4 linked regions of the Homo sapiens genome follow. The protein of the gene in region 3 interacts with the protein of the main gene of each other region in a biochemical or structural test. Each region holds a gene or a part of one and is shown on either strand. Other genes may lie near its edges.

Region 1 (7,973 bases), on a different chromosome or scaffold from region 3:
GGATAGAAATGTTACCTGCTTTGCACCAAGGTAATCTACTATTTAACTGAAAAAATATTAGTTTGACTTCATTATTTATAAAGTCCTAATCAGCGCCTGAGACTTGGTAGAGTGAAAATTTAAAAAAAAAAATTAAGTTCTGGCCAGGTGCGGTGGCTCACGCCTGTAATCTCAGCACTTTGGGAGGCCGAGGTGGGCGGATCACAAGGTCAGGAGATCGAGACCATCCTGGCTAACATGGTGAAACCTTGTCTCTACTAAAAATACAAAAAAATTAGGCGGGCGTGGTGGCGAGTGCCTGTAGTCCCAGCTACTCGGGAGGCTGAGACAGGAAAATGGCGTGAACCCAGGAGGGAGAGCTTGCATTGAGCCGAGGTCACGCCACTGCACTCCAGCCTGGGCAACAGAGCAAGACTCCATCTCAAAAAAAAAAAAAAAATTAAGTTCTAATCAGCAGATGTGATCAAATGATACTAAGGATGTCACTAACTCTTAAAACGTACCTGGTTTTCTGTATCATATGTTTTGGTAGAGGTCCAAGAATCCTTTCCATCATTGCTAAATGCTCCTTACTATCGTGTGTCTAGAAATAAAATAAAAACAGACTTGGGGAAGATGACCACCAAAACAGACACAGTTAAAGCTGACAGCAAAAAAACTAACATTAAGGCTTGCAGAACAAACTCGCCAATGATTCCCTACATGGACACGGATAATTGCTTATATACTGAAAGATGTTTTAAATAAAACAATTATGAAAGAAATATGAATTAGTTTATTTATGCTTATCTACAATTAATAGTCTATAATGGGGGAAGCAAAAGTATTTATTCATATAAACAGGCACCTTTCTTGTGCAAAGCAAGGTTGAAATAGATCATTGTCACTTACTGGAAATACGGTAAACCCAAGATAGTATTCAATAAGAATGCATCCTATGCTCCAGACATCACATGGTTGGGACCACCCTAGGGCTGCAAAGCAAAGCAAAATTTAAGGAAAAAAAATACTCAATGTTTGTTAAAGAAATTAAAAAGTTAGTTAACACTAATACTTTAAAAAAAAAAACACATGTAATGTAGGCTGGGCACAGTGGCTCACACCTGTAATCCCAGCACTTTGGGAGGCCAAGATGGGAGAACTGCTTGAGCTCAGGAGTTCAAGACCAGCCTGGGCAACACAGCGAGATCCCACCTCTATTAAGATATATATATATCTGAATTGGCCGGGCACAGTGGCTCACGCTACAGGCATAATCCCAGCCCTTTGGGAGGCTGAGGCAGGTGGAACACGAGGGCAGGAGATCAAGACCATCCTGACTACACGGTGAAACTCCGTCTCTACTAAAAATACAAAAACAAAATTAGCCAGGCATGGTGGCAGGCACCTGTAGTCCCAGCTACTCAGGAGGCTGAGGTGGGACAATGGAGTGAACCCCATAGGCGGAGCTTGCGGTGAGCCGAGATCGCGCCACTGCACTCTAGCCTGGGTGACAGAGCAAGACTCCGCCCCCCCCCCAAAAAATTATATATATACACATATATATGCAATGTGATGTTTGAGCTGGAAGATCCTAAAGCAATCACTTAATCCAAGGTTAAATACAATATATATGGCCGGGCGCAGTGGCTTATGCCTGTAATCCCAGCACTTTGCAAAGCCAAGGCAGGCAGATTGCTCCAGGTCAGCAGTTTGAGACCAGCCTGCCAACATGGTAAAAACCCCATCTCTACCAAAAATAAGAAAATTAACCGGGTGTGGTGGTGGGTGCCTATAATCCCAGCTACTCAGGAGGCTGAGGCAGGAGAATTGCTTGAACCCAGGAGGCAGAAGTTGCAGTGAGCCAAGATTGCACCACTGCACTCCAGCCTGGGCGACAGAGTAAGTCTCCGTCTAAAAAATAAATAAATGATAAAAATAAATAAATTATATAGTGTTATATATAGTCTGGAATAAAATAGGCATTAAACAATTTTCTGAGATGGAGTCTCGCTCTGTCGCCCAGGCCGGAGTGCAGTGGCGCAATCTTGGCTCACTGCAACCTCCGCCTCCCGGTGTTCAAGCAATTCTGCCTCAGCCTCCTGAGTAGCTGGAACTACTGACGTGTACCACCACACCCAGCTAATTTTTTGTATTTTTAGTAGAGATGGGGTTTCACCATATTAGCCAGGATGGTCTCGATTTCCTGACCATGTGGTCTGCCCGCCTTGGCCTCCCAAAGTGCTGGGATTACAGATGTGAGCCACCGCGCCCCACCCTTGGCCTCCCAAAGTGCTGAGATTACAGATGTGAGCCACCGCGCCCCACCTGGCATTAAACAATTACATTTAAAAACCCTACCACATATTACAAATGTGAAAACAATTCCAGAAAGGTTAAGCCACTTGCTCAAATTCCCAGAGCTAATTATCTGGTACAATTGAGAGCTTAAAATCCATAATGCACTTCATGATACTTATCCCTTAAAGAGAATATGATAAAGCCCCACAAGTAAGACCTAAAACTGCTAAAAAAATTTTAAGTCTCAATAAGGAAATACAAAGGTTCTCAAAGGACAATTAATACTCACCTAAAATAACTTCAGGTGCTCTATAATGTCTTGTAGATACCAATGTACTGTGATGTTCGTCATCATATGTTGCACTACCAAAGTCTACAACTTTAATATCTGGATTTATTAAGGTGCGTTCATCACGTTTCTGAAAATCATAAATGATGGTTAAGAAGGCATAAGCTATTAAGGCATAAGATACTTTATGAATATTTTGGAAGACTTACTATTTTGGGATTATACGCCTCTGTGTAGTCAGACTGCACAAATAAGATGTTTTCAGGCTTTAAGTCTGTGTGAGTCAACTTATTACTGTGCAAAACTGAGAATAAAGAGAAAGTTGCTGTAATCAGAAAACACCAAACCAAACCAAATCACAAAACCCCACAACAGGCCGGGTGCAGTGGCTCACGCCTGTAATCACCTGAGGTCAGGAGTTCGAGACCAGCCTGACCAATATGGTGAAACCCTGTCTCTACCAAAATTACAAAAATTGGCCGGGTGTGGTGGCGTGTGCCTGTAGTCCTAGCTACTCGGGAGGCTGAGGCAGGAGAATCACTTGAACTGGGGAGGCAGAGTTTGCAGTGAGTGAAGACTGCGCCACTGCACTTCAGCCTGAACAACAAAGCGAGACTCCATTTCAAAAAACAAAAAAACCCAACAAAAAACCTCTGATTCCTTTCCCAAAGAATGGTCAACATTCCAGTCTGCTAGAAAATCACCAGTAACTAAAACTTACTACCTCTTATGAAGCTTTCTTTTATGAGATATATCACGCCTTAATTTTTACCCAGCATTCGAAGTTACTATTTTTGCGCATCAGAAAAGTCTAAATCATAGTCTGCAACAAAGTACGTTGTTATATGGTGGATATCCTACTTGCTGAATGAAATGTACACTGCTGGATCAACAGCCTGTAATCAAATCTCTTCATACCTATTCTTCCTCCCCCTTTATTTTTAATCAAATAAAAATTGTACACACTTAGGATGCACATTTTGATATGTGGAATGGATAAAACCAGCAAATTAACGAAGATATACCAAGAACTTACAATTCACAGACTTGCATATCTGATATGCCATCTTTCTGATATGATCCAGTCGAAATGGTAGAAAACCATTTTCTTTAATGAAGTCGTAAGTACTAAGTCCCAATAGTTCAAAAACAATGCAAATGTGACCATGATGCTCAAACCATTCCAACATCTGGACACAGCGGCTACAAACACATGAAAAATAGCTAAGTATAGTTGCTCCTAATTTAAATATACCTGATACCACTTCCCAAGTTCTAATCTGATACTTACAAAGTACTGTTGGGGTCTGTTGTATTCAGATGTTCCAGAACTTGTATTTCTGAGCGAGCAGCTTCACAGTATCTATCCACATTTTTAACTATTTTTACTGCTACATGTCTACCTCCCCTGTTAGAAAGATGCATGCAAATTTAAGAATGACAGACATGATGCTCAATTCCAGGTATTACTGTCTTCAAACTGTACTACTACTCTGACCCACTGTATTTTTTTAATTTATGGTTTAGTGTTCAGTTCTGATTCTATTACATGCTGAATGACACAAATTTCTTTCATCAAACCACCACTCACATGAGTTATTTTTTGGTATTTCAGCTAAACAACTTCTTCCTATATGGTACCTGTCACTGTCAAACATTATCTCAAATGTTCTTTTAGTCCAGGTTGCCAAAAGAGTTAGGATACAGTGGGGAAAGAGTAAAGAGCTCTAGGACCGGGAGCAGTGGCTCTCACGCCTATAATCCCAGCACTTTGGGAGGCCGAGGGTAGTAAATCACTTGAGGTCAGAAGTTCGAGACCAGCCTGACCAACATGGTGAAACCCTATTTCTACCAAAAATATGAAAATTAGCCAGGCACGGTGGTGTGTGCCTGTAATCCCAGCTTCCTGGGAGGCTGAGGCAGGAGAATTACTTGAACTCGGAAGGTGGAGGTTGCAGTGAGCCAAGATTGCACCACTGCACTCCAGCCTGGGCGACAGACCAAGACTCCATCTCAGGGAAAAGAAAAATAAACAAAAAAAGAGCTCTAGCTCTCATGTCCTTACCAATCAATAGTAGGAAGCCCCCTCAAAAATGCTTTGCCATTCAGGAAGAGGAAGAACAATAACAACAACAACAACAACAACAACAAACAGGGAACTAAAAAAAAAGAGTAACGGAAAAAATTCTATACTATCTTAAGAAATTTCATGGCTGGAGCCAAGCGCTCATGCCTGTAATCCCAGCACTTTGGGAGGCTGAGGTGGGCAGGTCACCTGAGGTCAGGAGTTCGAGACCAGCCTGGCCAACATAGTCTCTACTAATACAAACAATACAATACTAATACAAACAATAGCTGGGCATGGTGGCGCGTGTCTGTAGTTCCAGCTACTCAGGAGGCTGAGGCAGAACAATCACCTGAACCCGGGAGGCAGAGGGTGCAGTGAGCTGAGATTGCGCCACTGCACTCCACCCTGGGTGACAGAGCGAGACTCTGTCTCGAGAAAAAAAAAAATTTCAATCAGTAGTTTGATAAACATACATAATTAAACTTGGGACACCAAGTTATCTCCAGCTATGTTATCAGAATGAATTACAGCACTTCCTAAAAATATAGATTCCTAGGTAACTACCCTGAAAAGGTCTGGGGTAGGCAAACCTCTCGAGGAGGATCTTAACATAAAACCAAGGCTGAGAACCACTAATATGGTGGGGGAAAAAAATATGGCCTAACAACAGTGTCCAGTTGAACAACAAAACAATACTTTCAAAACAATATAAAGTGTGTTCTCAGCCTAAAATTAGAAATTATACATACTATTAGTAGCTGTTTAAAAAATATGAAGGGGCAAGTACCTCTTAACTGGAAGTGTCTTACATCCAAGTAAAAAAGGGTATAAAGATATGTATCTAACTCATGGTCAGACCACTTTCTAAAGCTAAATCAATTACCTGTATTGCCAACTTCCCTAAAAGTAATCCCAACATGGGAAACTTACGCTTTATGATCGATGCACTCCACAACTTTTCCAAAAGCTCCTTCACCTAAAGTATCAACAATTTCATCTAAAAGAGAGAAATAAATCTCAGTCATATCAAGAAGTGGAAACAATGTACTTATCACAATAAATGCTATCAATGTAGATTATTCTAGTTGATGCTACAAATTTCCTTATCACTAGATATTTTATTGGTCAACACCATCAAAAAACATAATTATTAGGTCTAATTTCATTAATTTGATTACTGTTCTGGAAGTTCTATATAACAAACATTACATTTCTAAAGAAAGCAAAAATACAATCCCCCCCACCAAAAGAAATGGAAAAATAAAACAAAAACAAAAAAGAGAAAGAAAAAAAGATTTCCAAATCCCTGAAAGCTTAATCTATATATAGATTATGTTATCTGAAAAGTTAATAAGTGTTGAAAAATATTCTATACATCTTGCACTTAGTACGTCTCCACTCTGACAGATCAGGTGACCCTCCTCATCATCCTCTACACTCCTGGTTCTTTTCCTTCGGTGACTCTTCTGGAAACGTCAAGTGGGCGGCACCAAGATCATCCAGCCAATCAATATACCCGAGTGAATTCAGGGCAGAATACGAAATTCATTCAGCGGGGAGATATTCAGGCATTCAGATACACGCCAGGCCACAAACGGTTGGCAGGAGCAATTTCAAATTCAGTCCCCAGAAATTCACAGGGCACATAGTTTATGTTAACAGGAGAAAAACATGGCAAGGAACAGATTTTCAGATAAGATACTCAAAGTGGCAAGGCAACAAAACATAATACAATTGTTTTTCTTAAAAAAAAAAAATGCTTAGTTGTAGCATTCACTGAAACATAATTTTTTAGTTTCTAGTGTTCTAATTTAATGTTGCAAAATCGTATGATGTAATATTTACTTGTCAAAGTAGGCGGTGGCCAAATTAAGATTTCCTACCTAATCTAAGAAAACAAATATTATAACAGTAAATAAAATTAAAGTGCTAATTTTGGGGAAAAAAAGATTTGGCATACAAGAATAACACTACGGCATTTTTAATGTCATCTGAGCTGATCTCCATACTAATATATAACCCATAACAGTTCAAATCTGTTCTGGTTTGCTTAGTGAAAGAAGGGTTAGAAAACATGACTTGTTAGAACAAAGAAGCATACCTAATCCTAAATTATACAAAAATAAAATGCCCTGTTCTACTTTTGTGATTTCAATAGATCAAAACTAATCAGGTTTCTTGAAGTACCACAAAAAACCCTTTTAGAATATTTTGTAATAATTTTCAACTAATCTAAATTAAATCAATTAACTCCCATCATTTCACTGGAATGTCAATTAGGAGCCAACCAATAATTAAATTATAGAACTAAATGTGTACTTTATTTCCGGAATTTCCTATCCAATGCACAAACACAGAAAAAATCCTGCAGGTTAAAACTGAGATGATTTCATCTTAAAACTTTCTCAAATAATCAAACACAAAAATTCAAGTTTCCCTGTTCCACATGGGATATAAAATTTCCAAAATGTTTTAAAAACGTTCATACCCCATGTGAACGACGATGTGAAGTACTGTGGTGAATCCTGTGTTTGCTTTTATAACTACTTCTTCCACTTCTACCAGAAGACTTGCTACTATGGTTCTGATACCGGCTTTCATGGTCTCTTTGGCGATGTCCAGGTTCACATCCTTGAGTGTAGTCATTTCTGTACTCATCAATGTAGCGTCGACTATGATAATCTTTCTCATTTATAGACCTGCTTTCCAAATAATGGCTAGAGAAATAAAAATTATTTTCAATGTTTTATGCTAAGACCAAATATCCTCACATTCTCTTCAAGACAGCACCTAGACTCCCCCACAAGCAGCTTAATTTTACAAACATTACAAACCATCAAAATCTCTCATTGGAAACAAACGAATGGTAGTAATCAGGTACTTATTTTAAGTGATACTAGTTTTGTCTAGTAATGTATTGTTATATTCAGACATTTTAAGTATCCTCCTTACCTATCACACATTTTAGAGTGATTGTATTTGCAGCGCTTGTTCTCCTGGGCACTGCTATGTGATCTCTTCCTTCTTTTATGACTGCTGCTGCTCCTCCATTTTCCATAATCCCAATCCTTGTCATCCCAATCAGGACAGTAAGTTCTCTTTGAGTGTCTCATCTACATAAAAGGCAAGTTTTTCCTAGTTAAATTGTACCCCACACTGAGCTGTTTAAAATTCGTAATTACAAAGGTCCCCTCGTGACCTCGTTTTAAGACCAAAATTCAAGAATCATTATCACCCAATCTGAAATCACTGATAAATCCAATTACTGTGTTGTCCCATATTCTGCAGTTTGAACTTCATTCACAGGCACTCTGCATTAGCCATATCATGCCCAGA
Region 2 (7,973 bases), on a different chromosome or scaffold from region 3:
AGTAGAAGCCAGATTGTTGTAGACTCCAGAGTAAAGGAACTGGAAATTAAGAACATGATCAACTTATTTAAGAAGGACCCCCGGGAAGAGAGGAGAACTGATAGGTAGAGTAGGACCTGGACTTTGAGAGCCTGTGTTTTTTTCATATGAGAACAACTTGAATGTGTCATATGTTGAATCACCAGGAAGAAGGGATTAAAGATAAAGGCAGGGAGGGGGCAGTGAAACAGGATCCCTGAGGAAGTGAGAATACGGGTTGTGGGCAGGGGAGGGGAGCAGGTTAGCCTTGCAGCAGGAGGAGCTGCTCTTCCTCGGAGAGAGGATTTCACAACACTGGCAAGAGTGGCTCCAGTGCCTGGAGCGGGGATTAAAGCAGTAAGTCCAGTGGGGTCCAAGGGCCATGCAGGGGTACAGTGAGGAGAAAGCAGGTGTGATCCGGGTGGCACATCAGATCCTTCCAGCAACCAGTCTGTTAGGAGCAAGGGCAGATGTTGTGAGCCCCTATGTTTCCCCCAAGAAAATCAAACCTCTGAGAGGTTTCTCACTTGCTTATCTTCAGCTGGCCGAACTCAGCCTCAAACCCATATGTCCTGTCTCCAAGTTCAGTGACTGTTATCATCAACTTCTTCAACAGTAATAATAATAGATCACATTTATGGAGTGCTTGCCAGGGCATGTTTACATCATTATCTCATTTAACACTCAGAACAATCCTCTGTGGTGGGTGTTTTCATCGTTCCCATTTTGCAGGTGAAAAAACTGAGACTTCAAAAGGTTAAGTGACTTCCCAGGGTCCTACGACCTACATAATAAGTGGCAGAGCCAGGATTCAAACCTAGGTTATCAGAATAATGCAGCAAAGCCCAAACCCTCAGCCCCTTTTCACTGACTGGTAAGACCCATATTTAATTCGATGCCCTACATGCCGTGCACAAGTTTCAGTTTTCTGAAGCATCGCTTAGATGCTTAGGTGTTTAGCACCACTCTGAACTCTGACTTTTCTAGAGAGGCTGCTAAAGGCATTAGAAAGTTTCTGAAGTATAATGGAAAAACCCTGCTGGAGTAAGTGCCTGGCACACTCAGGATTATCAGTGTGATTCTTTATAATAAACAGGCTCCCAGCACCAAGCCCAATCTATTCCATCAGCTGGATAAGAGCTCTCTGGCAGGCCTTGGGCCAAGCTGGCTTCCTTTGCCTCAGCAGAAGAGCATTCTGATTCTCTCTGCCATCCCCAAAACTGACAGGAGCAGAGAGAAACAAGGCAGAGGCATGAAGGGAATGTCCTCTGCGGCAGATGGTGCTTCCGGAAGAGCTCCCACAATCTGAGCTAGAATGAACAGGGGCTAGATCCAAGTCTCATATAGGCATACTTCTGCTTGACAGAGTGGGCATGCCGAGGGCCGTTGGGTGGAGGCAGGCGTGTGCAACCCAAGCAGACATGAGACGCAGCTCCTTCAAGGCAAGGTTGCCTGAGCCCAGAGAGGCTCAAATTTGTGCCCCAACTTCCTCTGTGGCTTTTGGGTGGGGCTCTTCAGAATCGAAACACACTCAGAGGGCTGCTGAAAGGGCTAAGAAGTGTTCAAGGTTGGCTTCCATCAGGCTGCTCATGACAATGGCCCCTGAGGTTTTAACACCCTTGAACGCTTGGTACTAAATCAATTAGAGGCAGGGCAGGAGCAGAAAGAGTTGGCGCATTTGATCAGTAAGTTCCAATGCCAGTGCTGTCTATTATCTGTGAACTGTGTTAACTTTGGACACGTCACTTCACCTTTTTGAGCTGTTTCCTCGTCTGTAAAAGGGGGATAATACCCATTCCATGAGGTAAAGCTTTGAGCACAGTCTCTGATGTAAGCAGGTACAGAATATATAGATGCTGTAAGTTTCATGGTCCCATGGAAGAATTCAAAAGGGTTAGATCCCGCCTGCCCTCAAAAGGGTATGTGTTAGGAAATCAGAGTAATACCTAAGTAGTAAATTGCAGAGTCCAGAGACTCTGGGACTCAGACTTGAAGGGATGAGTGAGGATTGGACTAGGACGACTTCACGGAGGAGGTGACAATGAGCCTCAAGGTATGATGCAATATGGAAAAGGAGGGAAGAGAGTGGGAAAGGAAGGAATTTCATGCAAGCAAAACAACTTGCATGCAGTAACAGAGGAGAGAGGATGCTAACCCAGTGGATAGGGTGGCTCTAGAGTGTGGATGGTCTCCACGTCTGGCAGAAAAGGCTGGACTTGCTGCTGTGGCCCCCGGGACACAGCACAATGAAGGAGGCTCCAGGCAGTCCAGAGTGTGCAGGGTCCAATGCCTGCCCTTCTCAGACAGGACCACCCATCCACCCATCAGGGCCCAGGGAGCAGGGGTCAGAAGGACCTCATGACACAGAGTTCTGACTGTGATGACACACTTTCCCCAGAGGGGAGGGGAAGGGGAGAAGGGGTTAGAAGACCCCACTGAGAATGGAGGCATCCTAGCTGCAGAAGCACCTGGCTGGTAGGCTAACAGCACTTTGTGGGTCTCGTTCCCAGGAGATCTGCGCTGACCCCCAGTTTATCATTGGAGGAGCCACCCGCACAGACATCTGCCAAGGAGCCCTGGGTAAGTGATAGATTCAGAGCAAGCTGGGGGATCTTGTCTGTAAGGCTGTGGGTGGAAGAGATGAGGGACAACCTGTGGCTTCTCTCCCTTCCCAAGCAGCTTGGCAATTTCTATTTGCAGAGAAGCTCCATGGAATTTCTTGGCCCTAGCGGGCAATGATTCTACCCTCAGCCCCATGCTGGGGCACACAAATGAGGCCTCCTGTGTCCCCTGCACAGGGCTAGTTGCTGAGGTTACAGAGATGCTGCCACTAGGAGGACCAGGGGGCTTCTGGATGTCAGCCACCCCTTGGTATGCACCTCCTGGAGCCAGCATTACCAGTGGTTCACGAAATACACTCTGGGCAGAGGACTAGGTGGGAGGACTCCCCCAGACCAATGACAGCACTGAGACATCAGTTCTGTGAGGTTCAGGAACCAGGGAAGGTGACTCAGTGTAAAGAAAGAGGAAACTCTAATGCTCGCTGCTGAAGGAAGTTATAGTACCAGGGCATTCTCAGTGTTTGCAAGACAAGCTCACCATGGTATCACAGTTGTAACGCTCATTTAAGTAAAATGAACTGGAGTAGCTGAATTGTCCAAAACCTTGCTTTCTGGAGCCGAGTTCAGATTTGTTTCTGGAGATAGTCCTTGTTGAAGGTTTCAACCCACAGGGTTCTCCACCTTTAGTATGAAAATTCCCAAAGCTTCTAGGAAGTCCCAGCAATGGGGCCTGGCGCTGTTATCTAAGATTCTCATAGAATCTGCCCTCAATGTTCTTTTACTCATAATAAATGTGGGCCTATAATTACTAGAGCAGATTATTTGCTCTGATAAACCAAAAATCTATTTTCTGCCATCAGCCTCAGCTGGCTGGCTCCCCAGACAAGTTCATCAGTAGCAAAATCAGTCAACTAGAGTTGTACCTCCTGTCCTCACCCACCTAGCAGAGGTTCTGTTACTCATATACTCCTAATACCAGCTGATAACAGCTAATATGTATCTCTAAGGCACCGTGATTATTCCCATTTTATAGATGAGGATGCAGAGGTCTTCCTACAGCTAAAGTGGTGGCTGGTACCCCTGACCCCAGGGTATGTTTAATTCCTGAGCTAGACTCCCTAAGACGGGACCTGGAAAATTTTCTAGCCCTGAGGAATGTCAGAGCATCATGTGAATCATTAGGACAGACAGACTGTGAGGAAGAACATGAGCTGGGCGGGAAAGTTTGTCTGAGCTCAGGCTCTGCAGATTCCTGAGATGCCAGAGCACATTCTTACCTGCAGAAAACACTCCTTTCATTTCTTTTCTTCTCGCCCCACAAAAGACAGAAGATAGAGGTCCTTGAGCACCCAAGGCGGATCCTCCAGGAAAATCTATTCATTAGAGAAAATGGAATTGATGGAAACTTTGACCAACCCCGGGGGCTTTAGAGAATCCAGAAACAGCCGGCGCAGTGGCTCACATCTGTAATCCCAGCACTTTGGGAGGCCGAGGCAGGCAGATCACCTGAGGTCAGGAGTTAGAGACCAGCCTGGCCAACATGGTCAAACCCTGTCTCTACTAAAAATACAAAAAAATTAGCTGGACGTGGTGGTGGGTGCCTGTAATCCCAGCTACTCAGAAGGCTGAGGCAGGAGAATTGCTTGAACCCAGGAGGCAGAGGTTGCAGTGAGTAGAGATGGCACCACTGCACTTCAGCCGGGGTGACAGAGAGAGACCCCATCTCAAAAAAAAAGAGAGAGAATCCAGAAACAAACACAGCAACTGCCTAACATCTGCTTCAGAGTTTAACAACACCTTAAGTGCCAAAGTGTAAGCAACAAATACATGATTTAAGTCCTGTGTAAATACCACTGGGCCAATTGGAGAGGAGATAGCAAAGGTTAACATTCCTGGGAGAAATTTCCCTCCCAGGGGAATTATAAACCAGGTGAAATGTAAACCTTTTAAAAATTTCTTAGTAGCTAGTCTGTAATTTCTCAGGGGTGTGTGCGTGTGTGTGTGTGTGTGTGTGTGTGTGCGCGCGCGCGCGTATAATGCAGTATTGGTCATTTTGTTCTTTCAGCCTTTTATTTTGGAGGACTCTAGTTAGATCACAATCTGTGAAATGTGGTATACTGTACTCTCACCCTGATTCTGGCACCTGGCCAGCGGGTGCTGATGGGGCCTTGACCTTCACCAAATCCCAACAGCCTCACAAGCACCAGGAACAGAGGCCATGGCAGTGACACTCTGTGACATGGCCAGAGATATGAGCCTAGACTCAGCTCTGTTGGTAGTCCGAAGACTGGGCAAGTAATTACCTGGAACTTCCATCTGGAACCTCCGTCTCTTCCAAAAACGGAGAAGGAAGGAGGGTAAATGGAGTGACCTCAGACACCCCCTATGAGTTTGTATTCAGCTATTCTAAAGCCATTCCCGGGTTTCTAACCAGCTACTCCTCATTCCTTGTGCTAGAGGGTTAGAGCACTACAAGATCATCCTTATTTTCTCTCTTTCTCTCTTTTTTTTTTTTTTTTTTTGACAGGGTCTCACTCTGTTCCCCAGGGCTGGAGTGCACTGGCAGGATCTTGGCTCACTGCAGCCTTGGCCTCCTGGGCTCGAGTGATCCTCCCACCTCAGCCTTCTGAGTACCTGGGACTACAGGCACACGCCACCACACCTGGCTAATTTTTGTATTTTTTTGTATAGACCGGGTCTTGCCATGTTGCGCAGGCTGGTCTTGAACTTCTGAGCTCAAGTGATCCACCCACCTCGGCCTCCCAAAGTGCTGGGATTACAGGCGTGAGCCACTGCGCCCAGCCAAGATCATTCTTTTATTACACACAGAAGGAGTAATAACAGTACCCATCACCTGCATAACAGTATGCAATTCATAGAGCATTTTTTCACTACAGTATTTCATGTACTCATCCCAAATCTAAAGTAAATATTCTCACCTCACTGTACAGATAAAAAAAAACTGAGCCACAGAGACGGGAGAGTAAGTGTAAAGCCACACAGCTAGTAATTGCCAAAGGATTGAACCCTGGTCTGATTTTGAATCCTACACTCTTCCTAACCCATGCTCCCTCCAATTTGCCATAGTGCTGTGCTGAGGAACCATTCTCAGCAAAATTCATCTTCTCTACCTGCGCTTTCTACCCTGAGCCTTACTCAGTTCCCCCAGGGAACTTGGGCAGGTGACATTCTTAGACTTGTGCACTTTGCAACGCCCTGCCCTGTTTACTGTGCTGCCCAGCAATGTTTAATCCACAAACACCCACGCTCCTTCCCAGAAGGCTCAGCTTCCAAGCTTCACCAAAGTCATTTAAACCATGTTTACAGAGCTGCTCTCACCAAGAGCCATCTCCATTGCAGAATATAGTTGTGTAAGAATTGATTCAGCAGAGAAAAATCTGCCCTTCTGGAGGAAGGGCTGGAGACCCAGCTGGAGCCTCCACTGGCTGACCCTGCAGCTAAATATGGCTCTGAAATCGTGGGGTAATAACCACATTCTTACAGGTGCTTGCCACTTGAAATGGCTCCCAAGGACCCAGGAAACTCCAAGGCTGAGCTGCTCCTACCTCTGATGCTTTACTTTGCACTGGGTCACCACTGAGCTTTCCCCACAGCCTCACAGCTCACGGATGAAGGCAGCTACCCCAGCCAGGAAGGCATAGGTCACCTTGCAGGCCTCTGATTTCCTGGGGTAGAGCCCAAGGCTGCCAAGGCTGTTGAAACAGCACACCCCCATTTCATTGTAACCCAGCAAATGTTCCCTGGGCCCCTCAGAGGTGGGTCAACCTGCCTCCTTCTCAAGATGTCACATGGACCCCCAGAGCACCCACTGGGAGGTGTTTAGCTACAGGGTGCCCCACCCCACAGCCTAGCTCAGCAGAGAGTGGGGAAGGGACAAGACCAATGGGAAAGGCAAGCCAGATGGGGAATTTTCCAGTCCTGTTCCTTCTACCACTCATTAGCCACTTATTTGGACCCAACCCCTCTGAGCCTCAGTTTCTTCTTCTGTGAAATGGGAATAATGATAAGGATCCCTTCCCAGGGCTGTGGAGAAAAGTGAGATTTATACAGGCAAACACACTTGGCACACTATAGAATCCCAGACAAATTCAAGGGACCAGGATTATCATTACTGATTCCAGTTATGTGAAAAGTCCTTTTGCCAAATTGCCGAAGAAAAAGAGGATGGTGGAGGAAGAGAAAAGGAGGAGAAGAAAATAAGTTGGGTTGGAAACCAGATCCTTGTCCTTGAAAATTTCATAATCTAAGGGTGGAAATGCCAAAACGAGGAGAGACAAACTTGTGGCCTGTGTTTGGGTAACACACAGATTGAAACTCAGAAGGAGAAACATATGGGGAGAAAATGAACACAAAGGGGTCAGATGTGCATTCCTCAATTTTAAAAATTGAATATTTAAGTGTTTTAAATAATTTTTATTTCTTTTCCTTTCTTTCTTTTTCTTTCTTTCTTTTTTTTTTTTTTTTTTTTTTTTGAGACAGGGTCTTGCTCTGTTGCCCAGACTAAAGTGCAGTAACAAAACCATAGCTCACTGCAGCCTCGACCTCCTGGGCTCAAGCAATCCTCCCACCTCAGCCTTCCAAGTAGCCAGGACTACAGGCACGCACCACCTCACCTGGCTAATTTTTGTGTGTGTCTGTGTGGAGATGGGGTCTCACTGTGTTGCCCAGGCTGGTCTCAAGTTCCTGGGCTCAAGCAATCCTTCTGCCTTATCCTCCCAAGTGCTGGGATTACAGGTGCGAGTCACCACACCTGGCAAATAATTTTTAAATTATAAATTTAAAAATGCATTTTTATAATAGGTACCTTTAAAAATGTTAATAGACTTTTTTTTAAGAACAGTGTTAGGTTTATAGAAAAGCTGAGATGATAATACAGGAAGTTCCAGATACCTCATACCCAGTTTCCCCTATTATTAACATGTTACATCAGTGTGGTACACGTGTTATAATGAATCAGCATTGATGCAGTATTATTAAAGTCCATGCTTTATGCAGATTCTCTTAGTTTTCCCCTAAGGTTCTTTCTCTATTCCGGGATCCCATCCAGGACCCCACGTTTCATTTAGTTGCCAAGTCTCCTTCGGCTCCTCTGGGCTGTGACAGTCTCTCAAGTCTTTCCTTAATTTTGATGACCTTGACAGTTTTGGGGAATATTGATCAGAGATTTTGTAAGATGCCTGTCTATTGGAATTTGTGGTGCCTTTTTAATAAGTATGCAGTGGCTCACACCTGTAATCCCAGCACTTTGGGAGGCTGGGGCAAGAGGATCGCTTGAACCCGAGTTTGGGACCAGCTTGGGCAACATAGCAAAACTCTGTCTCTACAAAAAAATTACCTGGGCTTGGTGGCACATGCCTGTCGTCCCAGCTACTC
Region 3 (7,973 bases):
TTCCATGACCTCACATGTCCCCTCCTGTGAGTGCACATGCTCAGGGTGGCTGCTTCAGGGGAGCAGGGCAGCTTGAGACTAAAGCTCTGAAACACAACTGTTCTGTGTGAAACTAACCAGTACTGGAGACAGATACAGGCACCTACCCTTAGGAGCAAAATGTTCTATCAAGCAAGGGCACAGGCTGGGGAAGGTTTCCTATACACAGCCCAGCAAAGCCTTGCTTCAGTACATTGCAGGCGTGGTCATAATCTTTTACAAATCCTCTAATATCAACTGTGCCTTTTTAACCACTAGCTTGGAACAAGAATTTCATACCTGTATGAAAGAATATAATTTACTTGCTGGAAAAGTAGAAGTGTCACAAAGCAAAGAAATCACTTAATTTTTTTTTTTTTTTTGAGACAGAGTTTCACTCTTGTCCCCCAGGCTGTAGTGCAATGGTATGATCTCGGCTCAATGCAACCTCCGCCTCCCAGATTCAAGCGATTCTCCTGCCTCAGCCTCCTGAGTAGCTGGGATTACAGGCATGTACCACCACGCTCGGCTAATTTTGTATTTTTAGTAGAGACAGGGTTTCACCATGTTGGTCAGGCTGGTCCTGAACTCCGGACCTCAAGTGATCCACCCACCTCGGCCTCCCAAAGTGCTGGGATTACAGGCGTGAGCCACCATGCCCGGCCGGAATCAAAGATTTTTAAATACTGTCACTATGCTTCCAACTGTCCAACTTCCAAAGTACTGAGAAAATATTTTTTGAAATGTAGCCAAGTATAGAATATAGACTGTGTCCTACATTCAAAAGTTGTCTTTCTAGAAAGCATGTTTTAATGGCAAAGGATACAAAGCAAGCTGTAAAAAGAGACTAAAATTAGCTCAAACCACAAATAACCTAACATACTTATCACTTCCTTATGATCAACCTACAAAAATCAAACTTTAAAGGCACTTACAAAACTAAAGGTGGGAGGCCAACTGCACCCTTTAACTTCGCTATACCTTTCCTCCTTCTAACATGGACCCTGGCACATAAACACTGCCAAACGATGACACTGTGTTAACGTGAAGGCAAGCACCAGGGAAACTACGGGAGCACAGTTTTGCCCTGTAAATAAAACAGCATGTACCATGCAGTTCTTAAGTGGTTAGAAGGGTAACTACCTCCTCAAACTGAAGATGGGAAATGCAGATGAAGGCCCACACCCATCTTCAGCTGCATTTCACAGACAGCTAAGGACATACCACGCTCCCACTTCAAACAAAATATTCTTCCATCTTCTAAAGCCATCTATTTCCTACTTTCAAAAGCAACATCTTCCAAATCTATTGGGAAACCAAAAGTTTGTTACCATTCGAGTAGTGGAACAAGTTGCAAAATGAGGTTTAGTTGACAAATATGTATTCATGGGTAAAAAAAAGGCACTGGGTTTGTTAAACTACATCTACTTTTTCAGTGATTCTCTCTCTGAGTGTATTAACTATGTCTGATAAGTTTTGTGATAAATTTTTTGGAGAAACTTCAAGCTCACAAAGGATGAAAACAAGTGGTTAAGGATGAGTACAGAACCTACCAATACCACTGTGCACACTCCAATACTGTTACTCAAACTTTCAAAAGCATTTTCATTAGCAGGTAGAGAAATAGGGGCAAGTAGCAGACCTGGGTAGTTATTTGTGGTGTGAACAGACCAAACAAAATACTGATAATGGCACTAATATTCCTAAGATTTATTCAAGAAAAACTGTCAGTAAGACATGAAGGAATATTTAGAAATGCTCAGAAATGACACCATGATAGGTACATAAAGGGCCCATTGAAACCCAGCATTCTAGGGATGTGGATTCTCAAGGAATATTCAAGAGCAACCTTTAGGTGTGGCTAAACCAGGTTGTATTCTGGGGACTGCTCCAAAAATTTGGTTTTATGCTTGTATAAACCTGATGTAGCTTAATGTAACTTTCTGATCTTGGCCCCATTCTGCCTCACCCCACCTCGGAGCATGATCCTTAACACTATGGCAACAGGGAGGTGGCGTCCAGGTAGTAGAGAACAATAAGAGTAATGCTCTTAATTCAAAAGTGCTGTCAAGATACAGTTCAGTTCAGAGTAAAAACAACAAAGCAAAACAATGACAACAACAACAACAAACCAAAAAATGACATATTCTCTCCCTGCCCCGAAAAAAAAATTCACTGGGTACCTTCTTAGAGGCCTCTTTTCTCTGTGCAAAAGTTAGCCACAAAAATATTTATGACTCAGTGAAGGCGTATTTTCCCTTTATCCTTACAGAAGCAAACTAAGCCCTGACTATTTGAAAAGTGAAACAGTAGTTAACAGCGACAAATGTTCAAACATCAAGGAGAGTTAAAGCTAATTTACCATGTTATGCTAAATGCAGTTTGCTTATTTGTTCTCTTGAGTGAAGTTATATTCAGAAGTGACTTCATCCTTAGACATTTTTAAGTAACTCACGTTCTTAAGAGAACTCTATTTGGAATAATTACTTGATGTTCACTTTCCTGTAAGAAATTCGCAATAGTGTACAATCCTGTAACCGGGGCCCATCTGGATAAAAATTAGCTAAGCTGTTTGCTGTAATGTAACGTAGTGACTTTTAAGTAAGATTCTGCAAAAGGAAGAGAAGTGCCAATAAAAGATCCATTAAGAAAGGAAAAAAGTCGAAAAACGTTTCTTAACAGAGACAAGGGAAGAGTTTTCCTTTTCTAATCACTAAGAAATTTTTAAAAATTATTTTGAAAGCCTAGTTTTGCTATGCTCATCTTATCTTTGCAAGTGATGTTGCTCACCCACAAAAGCCACAAACACAGCCGAGGCTTCCTTCTTCATCTGTAAAAGTAAAATATACCTCAGTCTCTAGGAAGAAACATCTGAAAAGTAAAGAGAAGGAGACAGGGACACAAGCCTACTTGGGACCCAAAACTTTACTTCAAGTGGTTAATCCTCAAGAAGGATTTAGAATTTCCCAGCACTAGATTCAGAGTAGTAAAGAATACGTTTATTTCCCAGAGAAAATGCAGACCTTAAGTGTCCCTTTGCCATGTTTACTCTGAGTCCATATTACAGAGCTGACTTCAGAGCACTAATTCTATCTAATTACCATAGGGTATCCATAAAACCTTACTGCCTTAGTAAAACCATAAGCACTCAGTAAATCGAACGATGTCATACGTTTTTCTCTTAAAAAAAGGGCTGGGCCGGGCACAGTGGCTCACACCTGTAATCCCAACACTTTGGGAGCCTGAGGCAGACAGATGGCTTAAGCCCAGGAGTTCAAGACCAGCCTGGGCAACACAGCAAAATCCCATCTCTACTCCAAAAAAATACAAAAATTAGCTGGGCGTGATGGCACATGCCTGTAGTCTCAGCTACTTGGGAGCCTGAGGTGGGAGGATCACTTGAGCCCAGGAGGTGGAGGTTGCAGTGAGCCAAGATTGTGCCACTGCACTCCAGCCTGGACGACACAGCAAGACCCCATCTCAAAAAAAATATTAAAAAAATAAACTTTAAAAGGACTGAAAATCATTTATAAGTACTTGGTATTATTTTATTTGTAGTAGTGTGACTTGTACCAAAGCCCAGAGATCAATAGATTTGATGGCTACAGTTTTCTTTGGCTGTTTCAGGGCAGGAGGGAATCTTCCATGTGAAATGGTCTTATTTTCAGTTTTCATACAATCAAAATTTACAAGCTGTCAGCAAGATACTCATGATTATGTCAAGCTGCTTTGAAAAAGGAGAGGGCAGCAGCTATTAAACTCTAAAGACCATTTCTACACAAAGTAAAGCATTATTTCTAAAATGCTGGAGACTTAGGTACTTTCTTCTCAAATATGGCAGATGTGTAAACTATCATATTATTCAAATGAAACTTAGACCAGATGTAGGTTTCTTCCTAAAATTACAACATAAAGGGCAACTATTCTTTGCATACCTAGTTAGGGTTGAAGCTTTCGTAAATTCTCAAGAATCAGTTCCTCTATCTTTTACAGGAAAAGCCACCCAATTGCTACTTGAGAGAAAAACTGCAAAAGCATAGCGTACGTGTCAGGGCTACTCATTTTCCACATTACCAAGTCAAATGAACTCTATTTATCAAAAACATTTCATGCCCCTCGGGAAAAAACACCCCATTCTTTTGAGTTGTTAACTATACTCACAAAGCTCCTATAAACTTTTGAGCCTAATAGTACCCAACCACACCTTACAAAACTGAGTAACTGCTGCAGTTTTTACAAGGATTATTCAGGAACATTAAATTGTATTTGTGAGTACATTAAGGATTTTTATTACTTGACCTGAACTTAATGATCAGTTAGTCCAGGATCATTTTTACAAGGGAGAAACCAAAACCCAAAGAAAGTAAGGGACTCACTCAGCACTGTTAGTATGACAGCTGAGACTGCAACTATACCCAGACACAGGGGACACTAGAAAAAGCAAAACATGAAACTACTCTCTTGCCCCTAAGGGTGGTCTGATCAAAGGCCAAAGAATGTCATTACCATTTATAGTTTGAAAAAAAAAATCAAAGACTTGGTAACAGTCGTTATTTTATGGAGAACTATATTTTATATCCCAAAATCAAAAAGTATTTTATGAACCAACCACATGCAAAGGCCCGCTAGGCTTGTGAGAACCAGTCAGGAGGGATGAGGGAAGAGGAATTCAACAATTCTTAGAGAGACAAACATATTACCTCCAAGTTGCCTGTAAAGTTCACCGTAGGCCAAGCACAAATTTATTGTTATATTTAAAGCTTCTGTGAAACAAATCAGTGGTATCAGCTTCTACTGGCTAAGAATGCCAGCCTTTCTTCCAAAGCCACTGCAGCAGGCAATACTAAATTACCTCATTAGGCCATGACTCAAAATGTGGTGGGGGCCTTCTCCCAGAGTGACCTCTACTATTGGTACTAATGTGGGCTAATCTATTTGTTTCCATCATTGCCCCCCTAGAGTGGGAGCCAGGAACATGTTTTGTACATCTTTATACCATCAGGCTAGCAAAGTACTGACCATCAATTCAATCCCAACTCTTGTTAGGTACCTACTCTGTGCCAGGAGCAGAGGACTTCAAGATGAATGAGAAAGATACAACAGGTGGCCTCAGGAAGCTTGGGCTCCATTGGAGATAGACCTGGGATATAAAGTAGCAGCTACAGCTGGGCACAGTGTCTCATACCTATAATCCCAGCACTCTGGGAGGCCAAGGCAGGAGGATCACTTGAGCCCAGGAGTTTGAGACCAGCCTGGGCAATATAGTGAGACCTTGACTTTATAAAAATTTAAAAAAAAAATGTTTGTAAAGACGCAGCTACAATGACAGCAGGGCTTTAGAAGAGATATGTGCCAGCTTGTATGAAAACACACAGGTGACGGAACAAAACTCTGGTGCAAGGAAGCACACATTCGAGCTGGAAGATGCAAGCTAGATTGAACGGGAGAGGCATCCTCAACAAAGTGCTCAGCAATGGTATAGAGGAATGAAGGGCGAGGATGAGTTTGGAGAACGCTGCCCTTTCTTGTCTGGCTAGAATGGAAGCCACATAGGAGGGAAGGACTGGAAGCTGGCTGCCATGCTAAAGAGGAGTTTGGACTTTACAAGTGTTATGAAAGAATCAGAAGTAGTTGCAGAGGAGTGAGAGACTCAGATCTGGTTTTAGAACAATGAATTACTCTAGTGATGATGGGACCATATTAACGGGTAACCGGCTTCACTCATTTCTGCAGTGTGAAACTAGAAACCATTGCAGGCTCATAAGCAACATCTGAGAACCTAGACTACTAGTGTGGTGGAAAGGATGCCATAGTGACCAACCAGTGAAATGTGGCAGAGGGAATCACCAACTACTCCAAAGTCCCCAGCCCTCCTGGATACTCAAAATGTGAACATGGAATGGCTGGTGCCAAACTACATCATCTGGGAACAATGACCCAGCTAGAATTCCAATTTTCCTGAATATGGGCAGCATAAAGTAACATGCCCAGCCGATTTGCCAGTATTAGTTGTTACCAGAAACAAATCAGCATAAACACTGTAGGGAGGAATGCCAAATTGTGCAAAATATATATAGGCTCAGGCAGGCCTCAGAAAAAGTACCTGCTCACGCCTGCAATCCCAACTTCAGGAGGCCAAGGTGGGAGGATCGCTTGAAGCCAGGAGTTCAAGACCAACCTGGGCAACACAGCAAAACCCCATTTCTATTTAAAAGAAAGAAAGAAAGAAAAAGCAGTGCTAGGAACAGAAATTGCCAAAAGGATTCTGTAATCTACAAGATCACAAGACAGTTTTCTTTAACAAAGAGAAAAGGGAAAGAATCACACAACAAAAGGCCGTTATTTCAGTAGCTAAGTCAAAAAACCTCCACAGGAAATTTCTTATTCATTTCCACTGTGAAATTCAGTACACATTCAATTACATTATTCAATACCAGGTATTTTAATAGGTTTTGAGGAGCTATTCAAGATAAAATGCAAAATGGAGGAGAAGTAACGGCAGATAACTTGCAGCTAAGAAACAGCGGCATTACCATTATCCCCCAGCTGACTTTTTAGAACCACTGGTTGGTTTACTTACTTCCAAAAACACCAAAGTATTCCTATAAATATGCCAGTGATGTCAAATAACAATAGCAAAAAGTTCTTTCCTTCACTATTTCTACTTGTGCTCCCAGTTAATCTAATATCAGTCCAGACAATTACAAAGGCATTTACACCATTTCCAAAGTACTGATCAGACACCTAAATTTAGTTCACTCAAACCAGGGCTAAACAAGAACATTTAGATCTAATGGGTCACTCAAGATGACTAGAACTTCCCAGTCTCTCCATGTCATTTCCGTTAGTCTTTTTTTTTTTAAGTGAAGTGAGTCATAGTGTATAGATCTTTCTCCTTTGCATAAAATAGTTTTTTTTCCTCTGAAGAAAATAGTATTTAAATAAACATTATTGGCAAATTTTAATATTCATCTTTTTGGAATATAACAACATAAGCTGTATATCAGTAAGGAATTTTAGTGAACTATTGTTACAACATGGTTTTAACCTAGTCAGGCATTAGATTGTATTTCATAATGAAAACAGCTATAAAAACAAATGTCAATTGGAAGAGTGGCCCATTTTACAAAGCCTGCCTCTAACATGAATAAATCTTGCCTTCATGTCACAAGGTATTATTGCAGTCCCCTTTATCTGAAACAATCAAATCATTCACAATGAAATATAGTGAGTGGTGTCAGAGAATCAAAGAATTTACAGACGAGAAAACAAGCAAAACACCGGACCCAACCCCTCTTAAACTACAGATGGAGGGGAGCACATGAGCTATTCTTTTCATTCACTCAACCCTCTCTCCTCTCATTCTAGCTCAGTAAAATCAATCTCTTTTCCTCATCTGGGCTCATTCTCTCCTCTTAGACAGCTAGGCCCAATCAAGCAACCGGATGATTTGAAAGTGTTTAAATGCTAGAAAACAATGTTTAAAGCCATCTATATACACTATCAAAGCTGACTTTTTATAGACCTAGATGCTTATTAGCATCTATGCTATTCATTAGCATTAAAGATTAAAAATACGGTTATGCTCACTTTATCAAACTGACCTAGCAAAGAATCTCTGCCTAAAAAGTTTGTTTTCCAAGCTGCCACATTCCTCAGCACTCAAAAGTCCTCTTCACTCTTTGTTCTTTTCCCAATAGTTTTCAAGTTTTTACATCTTTTTGTTCTAATCAGAAAATAAGTTAGAATAACTGACCTGCTTACCAAGTTGTAAGCAAAAATTACATTATTCTCTGATCACAATAGGCTAGGCAAGCTCAAAGTATGACTTTGTATAAGGCTGCCCTCATTTCAACATGCTATAAAGTATTAATTTTTTTAAACTTCCATTTTCTATCAATTGTAAACACATTCTTTGAATCCTTGAAAAATAATGGTTTTGGTAAAGCGATACA
Region 4 (8,056 bases), on a different chromosome or scaffold from region 3:
ATCTAAAAAAAAAATTCATATATTTATTGTATACAGCATGATGTTTTGAAATATGTACACACTGTGCAATGGCTAATGCAAACCAATATATACACCACCTCACATGCTTATTTTCTGTGGTAAGAACACCTATAATCTACGCTCTTACCAATTTTCTTTTCTTTTTTTTTGAGACAGAGTCTTGCTCTGTCACCCAGGCTGGAGTGCAGTGGCACGATCTTGGCTCACTGCAACCTCCGCCTCCCGGGTTCAAGCGATTTTCCTGTCTCAGCTTCCCGAGTAGCTGGGACTACAGGCATATGCCACCACGCCCGGCTAATTTTTGTATTTTTAGTACAGATGGGGGTTTCACCATATTGGCCAGGCTGGCCTCAAACTCCTGACCTCAAGATCCACCCGCCTCCGCCGCCCAAAGTGTTGAGATTACAGGCGTGAGCCACCGCGCCCCGCCTCTCTTAGCGATTTTCAAGAATACATCGTCATTAACTACAGTCACCATGTAGTACAGTAGATTCTGGAAGGTATTCCTCCTATTTAACTGCCATTTTGCATTGTTTTGACCAGCATCTCCCCAACCTTCCCCCAACTCCCAGGATAATTTCCATTGTTTTTTTTTTAATCTTTGAGACAGAATTTCCCTCTTGTCGCCCAGGCTGAAGTGCAATGGAGTGATCTCGGCTCACTGCAACCTCCGCCTCCCAGGTTCAAGCAATTCTCCTGCCTCAGCCTCCAGAGTAGCTGGGATTACAGGCTCCCGCCACCACGCCCGGCTAATTTTTGTATTTTTAGTACAGACAGGGTTTCACAGGTTGGCCAGACTGGTCTCGAACTGGTGACCTCAGGTGATCCACCTGCCTTGGCCTCCCAGAGTGCTAGAATTACAGGCGTGAGCCACCAGGCCCAGCTGATAATGTGCATTTCGAACAACTTAGGTTGTGGGGATATTACCTGTTCCTGGACCACACTTTGAGAACCACTGACTTAACCCAATCCTGCCTTTCTGCCCCTTTGCTCAGCTTGCTCACTCGGCCAGCTCTAAGTTCTGAAGACTGCTGCAGAACAAGGCAGGGACCTGCTGTGATGGGAAAGATCCTGGATTAAACGGAAATCTAGGGAGTCCTGTCTGCATGCTGATTTGCAGTGTATTTGACCTCCTTTTCTAAGAGCTCCTGCTTTTTGTTTGGAGCTGCTGAGCAGGGCTTAATGCCTCTCCCACACCTATCCTCCCGAGGGCTCCGGCCTGTACTTAGGTTCTAACATCACCTCACCCTCGGGCCTGCTCAGCTGCCCTCTCCAACGGTGCACCTACCCCTGTAGCCGCCGCCGCCTCCGCCCGCAGTGCAGGCCCCGCCGCCGCCCCCGAAGCCGCCGGCCGCGGCCCAGCCAAGGGTCGCCCAAGCCTCGGAGCAGCCCTGGCCGCCCTCCGCCCCCTCCTGCAGTGAGCGGCCGGCCTGCGGAGAGGGAGCCCGCGACGTCCAGCCGCCCCCACCACCTGCAGAGCGACAGCAGGAAGGTTGGCAGCCACACGGGGAGCACGCCCGCCTCTCCCCGCGGCCCGCGCCCTCACCTGCCGCCCCGCCTCTCCCGCCGCTCCCGGGCGCCTCCGAGCGGTTCTCCAGTTTCTCGGGGGAGGCCTGAGTCCGGCCTCGGTCCCGCGGCCTCAGGTAGGCCCGACCGCCGCCTCCGGCCGCCACCAGCAACGGTTCCAGCTCGCCAGCGCGCACCTGTGGGGCCAGCGGCGTGTTCCAGGAAGCGCCCTCCAGCTGTCCAGGGGCACTGCCACTGGGAGAGGGCTCCCGCCCAGGGGGCCTGGATAAGGGCAGGGGCCCCCAGCCCAGCCCAGGCCAGCCCAGCCCAGCGCAGGGATAGGGGGACCCCAAGGGACGGACGGAGAGCCGGTGCGTGAGCGCCCCTGGGGAGAGGATTGGGACCCCAACGCTGAGCGCCGAAGGGAGCACGTACCCGGAAAACGTAGGTGGCGCCCCCGCCACCCCCGCCACCTCCCGCCCAGCGCCGCGACCCCGGGACCCCTTCGCTCCCATCCATCGCCGCGTGCTCTTCAACGGCTCGAGACTCCCCGAGGCAGACGAGCTGGCTCTCCGGGCTACCCTGCGGGCAGCGGGGGAGGGAATCGGCGGGGCCCGGGAGCCTCCCCTCGCTGTGCTGGTGACCCGGCACCGAGGAAAGCACGCTCCCCCGGCCCCCAGGCAGCCCTCGCCCCCGGCGCCGGCGCCGCCCCATCCCCACTGGCTGCGCTCACTCCGGGACAGGCGTCCTCTCCCTGCTGCCCCACCAGGATGTACAGCGACTCCCCGAGACCGAGGGAGAAGATTGCTGAGACGAAGACGCCATGCGCCCGCGACAGGTGGTTCTTGGCGCCTTTGCCGCCCGCGGCTCCGTAGGCTGAGATCCTGCGGGGAACGGACGGTGAGTCCCCGGCCTTCGGTGCTCAGGCCGGCCGCTCCGGGCAGAAGTTGGCGACAGAGGAGGCTCCAGAATTATTTTTTATCTGAGGGACTTGGAGGCTGCAATCGACTCTGACGGGATGGGAAGGGTAGGTTTGCACACCGAAAAATCAGATATTACACTTATTTCAGGAGGGTTCGTGGAAATGTGGGGAGGCTCAAGCACCCCTTGGCGCCGCCCTGGTTGGGGGCCTTCCGCTCGGTGTAAGAGGTTCCGGGTAAGGGCTAACTCGGTGGCGACTACTGCCACCTTGAAGGGCACTCAAGGTGGACCTCCCCGCGGAATAGTCCAAGACGCAAGTCGGTGCGCACGTGGACTTCGTTACCCTGAGGGTGAAACCTCCAACTAGCAGGTCACTGTCCACCCTACCTCCGCCGTGCACTTACAGATACTGGCCAGGGCCCGGCACGCGCCACAGCTGCACGCCTCTCAGCTGCCCGGCGGCCCCCACGGTCACCACCACGCTGGTCCCCGCGTACGCCCCGTCACATTGTGTCTGTGTGGGCCCATGCCGGCCGCTGGCCCCGCAGGTAGAAAACAGCCAAGACCCCTCGGTGCCTGAGAGCAAGGAGCGAGGCAAGGGTCGTCGAGCCCCTGGCTGGGCCAGAGGGGTCTGGTATGGTGAGCGAAAGAGGAAGGAGGCGTCTAAAGCTCACCCGGAGAATTCAGCGGGGAGGCTGGCTCCAAGATACTAGGCGGGGCGCTGACTTTCGGGTCCCGGGGGCTGGGACTTGCCAGCGGCAGGGGCGAGGACCGCAGAAAAGTCTCCTGGGACCCCGGGCTAGAGCAGAGAATGGCGCCTGAAAGGTGTTGGGAGAAGGCGCAGGACGTTAAGGCGGGTGGAAATAGGATATGAAAGAAAGAGAGAACCCCGCAACAGCTGCCCTTGCGGTCGCGGCCACACCCGTCACCCGGCCCAGCCGCGCTCTCAGCCTGGAAGCCACTACCCGACTCCGGTCGCAGAAGCCCCGCGGGTGCGCGCTGATAGGTCTGCCAGTTTCTCTCCTCGAGCGCCTTTCCCAGTGAATAACTTAGGGGCCGCAATGAATTTGGTCCTGCAGCCTCCCCAATGCTTTCCTCAACTTAGATTGGTGGCCCCGCCCCAAGGCGGTGCTGAGACCCCAAAGAATGTTCCTCCTTCCCAAGCTGCGTGATCCAGACTCTGGGATTCGCACGCACTTGGCGCTTCTCGGCCCGCACTCCAGAAGCACGGACCGGAGAAATTTGGCTGTGAGAGTTCGAGGCCTCTGGAGGAACCACTGACACCTGGCCTGTTGACCGGCCACCCCCAAGCCTAGGAAAGTGCCTCAGGCTGGACGGTCCCCTGACCGCCAGATAGCACTTACCCGCGGCTCCGAACCACACCAGCAGCTGTCCCCAGCAGCCCATCCCTGTTGGGTCCACCCGGCAACAAAAGCCCTTGCGGTCGCGGCCACACCCCTGTCAACCTAAAGTTGACAGCTCATTTTGCCACGGCAGCCCTGGCCACCACTTACAGGGGTGTGCTGCCGCTGGCGAGACACTCCCCGGACCTAAAGCTGGTCTGGCCACGCCCACCTCAGACCCCAGGACGCCAGAGGAGGAAAGGGAGGGGCGTGTGGGCAGCGAGGTCCCTACGCTTCCGGGAGGAGCCTTAAGGAGTCCCCACCCAGGGGTTCTAGTTTCCAGCCGTCAGATGTGCCGCAGCCTGCTGGGAGCTCCGGTAGGTTTGAGGCCGGAGAGGAGGTGCCCCACGCTTAAAGTGGGAGCCACACCTCGGACACCAGGTGGGGGCTTCCAGGTTCCTGAGGACAGGAGCAGTGGAGTGTGCACTTCATTTGTGGCAGTGGTGGTGGTGGTGAGTGTGTGGCATGCGTCACCACACGTGGGAAGTACTCTAAACTGCTCCAAGTAAGGCCTCATTACCTGCCATTACTTGTGCCTTTTAGTGGTGCCTTTGTGACTGCAAGGCTGAACCTCATTGCTACTCCCAGAAACCTGGATCTCTGTGTTTGCCTCATATAATTCCGTTGCCTGTGTTACCCCTGTGCACAGCCTCTCACTGTGATGGGGTGAAAGACTGGACCAGACGTTAGAAGATCCGAGTGTTTTTAGTAGCACTGAAGGTCAATAGATGATAGGTAGGTAGACCGATCGATCGATTGATCTTGAGCACTAGTACTGGCACCTCTGGTCAATGGGTGATGTAGCACAGGCCACAACTGCCCTGAGAGTTTCCCCACCACCTGCAAAATCATATGAAGGGAAATTGCTCTGTAAGGTACCCTACAAATGTGGGAGCCACTCCCTTCAGGTAGTTTTGTGTCTTGAGTCTTCGATCATTTGCTTAAATGATCATTTGCCGGGTGCGGTGGTTCATGCCTGTAATCCTAGCACTTTGGGAGGCTGAGGCGGGCAGATCACCTGAGGTCAGGAGTTCGAGACTAGCTAGACCATCATGGCAAAATCCCGTCTCTACTAAAAATACAAAATCAGACACACGTGGTAGCGCACGCCTGTAATCCCAGCTACTCTGGAGGCTGAGGCAGGAGAATGGCTTGAACCTGGGAGGCAGAGGTTGCAGAGACGAGATCGCACCATTGCACTCCAGCCTGGGCAACAAGAGCAAAGCCCCATCTCAAAAAAAAAAAAAAAAAAAAAATCCTAACTTGAAAGTCTGAGACCTATGTTTAATACAAAATACTTCAAAAGAGAAGTTATAGTAGTTAGCTACTTGGTAAAGTCTGAGTATAATTCAAGGTGTAAACAGAACAGTGATTTTGTAAAAAGTCTGGTCTCAGCCAGGCGTGGTGGCTTACACCTGTAATCCCAGCACTTTGGGAGGCCAAGGGGACGGTGGGGGTGGGGTGGATCACAAGGTCAGGAGTTCAAGACCAGCCTGGCTAAGATGGTGAAACCCCGTCTCTACTAAAAATACAAAAATTAGCCGTGCGTGGTGGCAGGTGCCTGTAATCCCAGCTACTTGGGAGGCTGAGGCAGAGAATTGCTTGAACCTGGAAGGCAGAGGTTGCAGTGAGCCGAGATTGCACCACTACACTCCAGCCTGGGTGACAGAGTGAGACTCCATCTCAAAAAAAACAAAAAACAAAAAAACCCTGGTCTCTATGCCCTACTTAACACTAGATATCACACTATGAGATCACAGAATTTACCTTGCAAAGTCTCTTTAAGCCACTGCTCTTCAAATTGTGGTTGTGTGGTTTGTTCTGAACATCAGCATCAGTATTACCTGGGAACTTGTTAGAAATGCAGATTCTTGGGTTTCACCCCAGATGTACTGAATCAGCAGCTTCTGGTGGTAGGACCCAGTGATCTGTTTTAAAATATCCTCCAGATGATTTTTGTCACAAAGTTTGAGAATCATTGGTATTTGCTGATACAGTAGTTGCTTAATAAAACCTATTGGGGCCACATGCTGTGGCTCACACTTATAATCCCAGCACTTTAGGAGGCTGAGGTGGGCGGATTGCCTGAGCTTAGGAGTCTGAGACCACCCTGGGCAACATGGCAAAACACCGCTTCTAATAAAAATACAAAAAACTAGCCCGGTGTGGTGGTGCATGCCTGTAGCCCCTGCTACTCGGGAGGCTGAGGCATGAGAATCACTTGAGCCTCAGAAACGGAGGTTGCAGTGAGCCAAGATCATGCCACTACACTCTGGCTTGGGCTACAGAGTAAGACTCTGTCTCAAAAAAAAAAAAGAAAAAAAGGCTGGGCCCAGTGGCTCATGCCTGTAATACCAGCACTTTTGAAGGCTGAGGCGGGCGGATCATGAGGTCAGGAGTTCGAGTTCAAGACCAGCCTGGCCAACATGGCAAAACCCCATCTCTACTAAAAATACAAAAATTAGCCAGGCGTGGTGGCACGCGCCTGTAATCCCAGCTACTTGGGAGGCTGAGGCAGGAGAATGGCTTGAACTAGGGAGGGGGAGGTTGTGGTGAGCTGAGATTGCCCCACTGCACTCCAGCCTGGGCAACAGAGCAAGACTTCGTGTCAAAAAAAAAAAAAAAAAAACCCAAAAAAACCTATTGGATAATTCTGTGTTCAGCAGCTCCATTTATGAAGACTGGGTTCTCTCTACCTACTGACAGGGCTAGGCCTTGGCACACTGCTCTGACTCTGGTTACTTGCAAACACAATAAGTAATCCACACAGCAAAAGACAGTCTAAGAAAGCCTAAAGTTTAGAATTCAGACCAAAGAACAATGTAGAAACTACCAAAATAGGCCAAGTGTAGCGGCTCATGCCTGTAATCTTAGCACTTTGGGAGTCTGAGGTGGGTGGATTGCTTGAGCTCAGGAATTCAAGACCAACCTGGGCAACATGGTGAAACTCCGTCTCTACAAATACAAAAAATTAGCCAGGCGTGGTGGCACTTGCCTGTGGTCCCAGCCACTCAGGAGGCTGAGGTGGGAGAATGGCTTGAGCCCAGGAGGTCGAGGCTGCAGTGAGCTATGATCACGCCACTGCACTCCAGCCTGGGCAACAGAGCAAGACCCTGTCTCAGAAATAGATAGATAGATAGATAGATAGATAGATAGATAGATAGATAGACAGACCGACCGACCGACAGACAGACAGACATGGGGTCTCACTATGTTGGCTAGGCTGGAATTGAATTCCTGGAATCAAGTGATCATCCTGCCTCAGCCTCCCAAGTAGTTGGGACTACAGGTGTGTACCACTGTGCCTGGCAGGCCCCACATTCTTGTTGTCTCCAGATGTGGACAAAGTTTTTACCTCCCACTTATGATTCTTCCCCATCTCTCTCACAGCAGTCCTGCTCCTCACCTGGGATAACCCACCCCCAGATACTAACCCTGAACTAACATGGCTGAAATCAGTCCAGATCAAATTTCCAGGAGATAAAAAACATTTATTTTAATGCACAACTATAGCATTCATATGCCTCAGCCCAGGGCAGGGGTTGGGAGTTAGGTAAGAAGGGATGCATTTAGTTTGCCCTGTCCCCAAAGAGCGGGTAAATAGCTAAGCCACTCTTCACTCCCAGTACAGACCTTCAGAAGCCCCAGATATCAGGATGTAATGGTAGGGCTCACTGCTCTAAAACAGCTCAAACAACCTGCTCCCAGGAAGGCAAGCCTTCTGCTCCTTGGTCTCCTGCCTACCATTAGGACACAATGTTCTTCGTCTGGCCAGACATCTGTTGAAAGGCTGGATACAGGACAACGTACCCATCTTTCCATCTATATCAACTATCCTAGGTCTCTGATACCCCATTTTGGAGCACTGTTGAAGTCAGTCTCTGGAGGTAGTGCTGACGCAGAGGGGGCAACTGAGAATAGAGCTCAAAGCCCTCTGGGAGCGTGGAATTGGGAAGCTTATAGTGCAGGAGGTGCTGCCGGAGACCCTGCAGAAAGGAAAGAAAACTTATGAAGTGGGTAATGAGATCCTGTTGTGGTCTCTGTCCCCCAAGATCCTCTAATATCCCACCCTCCTAATGGCCCTGACCCTACCTCATCTGCCAGCAGCCATGTTTTCTGCAGCATACTCCTGCGGGCAGCTTTGACCTCATCCTAGAAGCAGAACAGGGAGAGGTGGCACTGAGCCGAGGGCTGGTACCCACCAC

Evidence for each region.
Region 1: of the proteins of PTPN1 (region 3) and CLK1, one has a biochemical effect on the other in vitro, tested with the Homo sapiens proteins (one study listed by IntAct).
Region 2: of the proteins of PTPN1 (region 3) and CAPN2, one has a biochemical effect on the other in vitro, tested with the Homo sapiens proteins (one study listed by IntAct).
Region 4: the proteins of PTPN1 (region 3) and LTK form a complex in vitro, tested with the Homo sapiens proteins (one study listed by BioGRID and IntAct).

The regions. Positions count from the first base shown.
Region 1 is NC_000002.12:200,854,113-200,862,085, forward strand, and holds part of CLK1 (dual specificity protein kinase CLK1), read right to left. Parts: intron 7,751-7,973; coding exon 7,590-7,750; intron 7,355-7,589; coding exon 7,126-7,354; exon of another isoform or gene 6,104-7,125; coding exon 6,013-6,103; exon of another isoform or gene 5,635-6,012; coding exon 5,568-5,634; intron 3,978-5,567; coding exon 3,861-3,977; intron 3,773-3,860; coding exon 3,606-3,772; intron 2,874-3,605; coding exon 2,779-2,873; intron 2,700-2,778; coding exon 2,570-2,699; intron 975-2,569; coding exon 892-974; intron 584-891; coding exon 504-583; intron 1-503. UniProt on the Homo sapiens protein: Dual specificity kinase acting on both serine/threonine and tyrosine-containing substrates.
Region 2 is NC_000001.11:223,715,234-223,723,206, forward strand, and holds part of CAPN2 (calpain-2 catalytic subunit), read left to right. Parts: intron 1-2,528; coding exon 2,529-2,598; intron 2,599-7,973. UniProt on the Homo sapiens protein: Calcium-regulated non-lysosomal thiol-protease which catalyzes limited proteolysis of substrates involved in cytoskeletal remodeling and signal transduction. Proteolytically cleaves MYOC at 'Arg-226'.
Region 3 is NC_000020.11:50,512,800-50,520,772, reverse strand, and holds part of PTPN1 (tyrosine-protein phosphatase non-receptor type 1), read right to left. Parts: intron 1-7,973. UniProt on the Homo sapiens protein: Tyrosine-protein phosphatase which acts as a regulator of endoplasmic reticulum unfolded protein response. Mediates dephosphorylation of EIF2AK3/PERK; inactivating the protein kinase activity of EIF2AK3/PERK.
Region 4 is NC_000015.10:41,509,855-41,517,910, forward strand, and holds the start of LTK (leukocyte tyrosine kinase receptor isoform 1 precursor), read right to left. Parts: upstream 3,974-8,056; 5' UTR 3,856-3,973; coding exon 3,813-3,855; intron 3,267-3,812; coding exon 3,123-3,266; intron 3,025-3,122; coding exon 2,853-3,024; intron 2,412-2,852; coding exon 2,261-2,411; intron 2,110-2,260; coding exon 1,963-2,109; intron 1,725-1,962; coding exon 1,568-1,724; intron 1,555-1,567; exon of another isoform or gene 1,493-1,554; coding exon 1,310-1,492; intron 1-1,309. Other genes in the region: RPAP1 (RNA polymerase II-associated protein 1), read right to left, coding at 7,688-7,837, 7,944-8,003. UniProt on the Homo sapiens protein: Receptor with a tyrosine-protein kinase activity. Following activation by ALKAL1 or ALKAL2 ligands at the cell surface, transduces an extracellular signal into an intracellular response.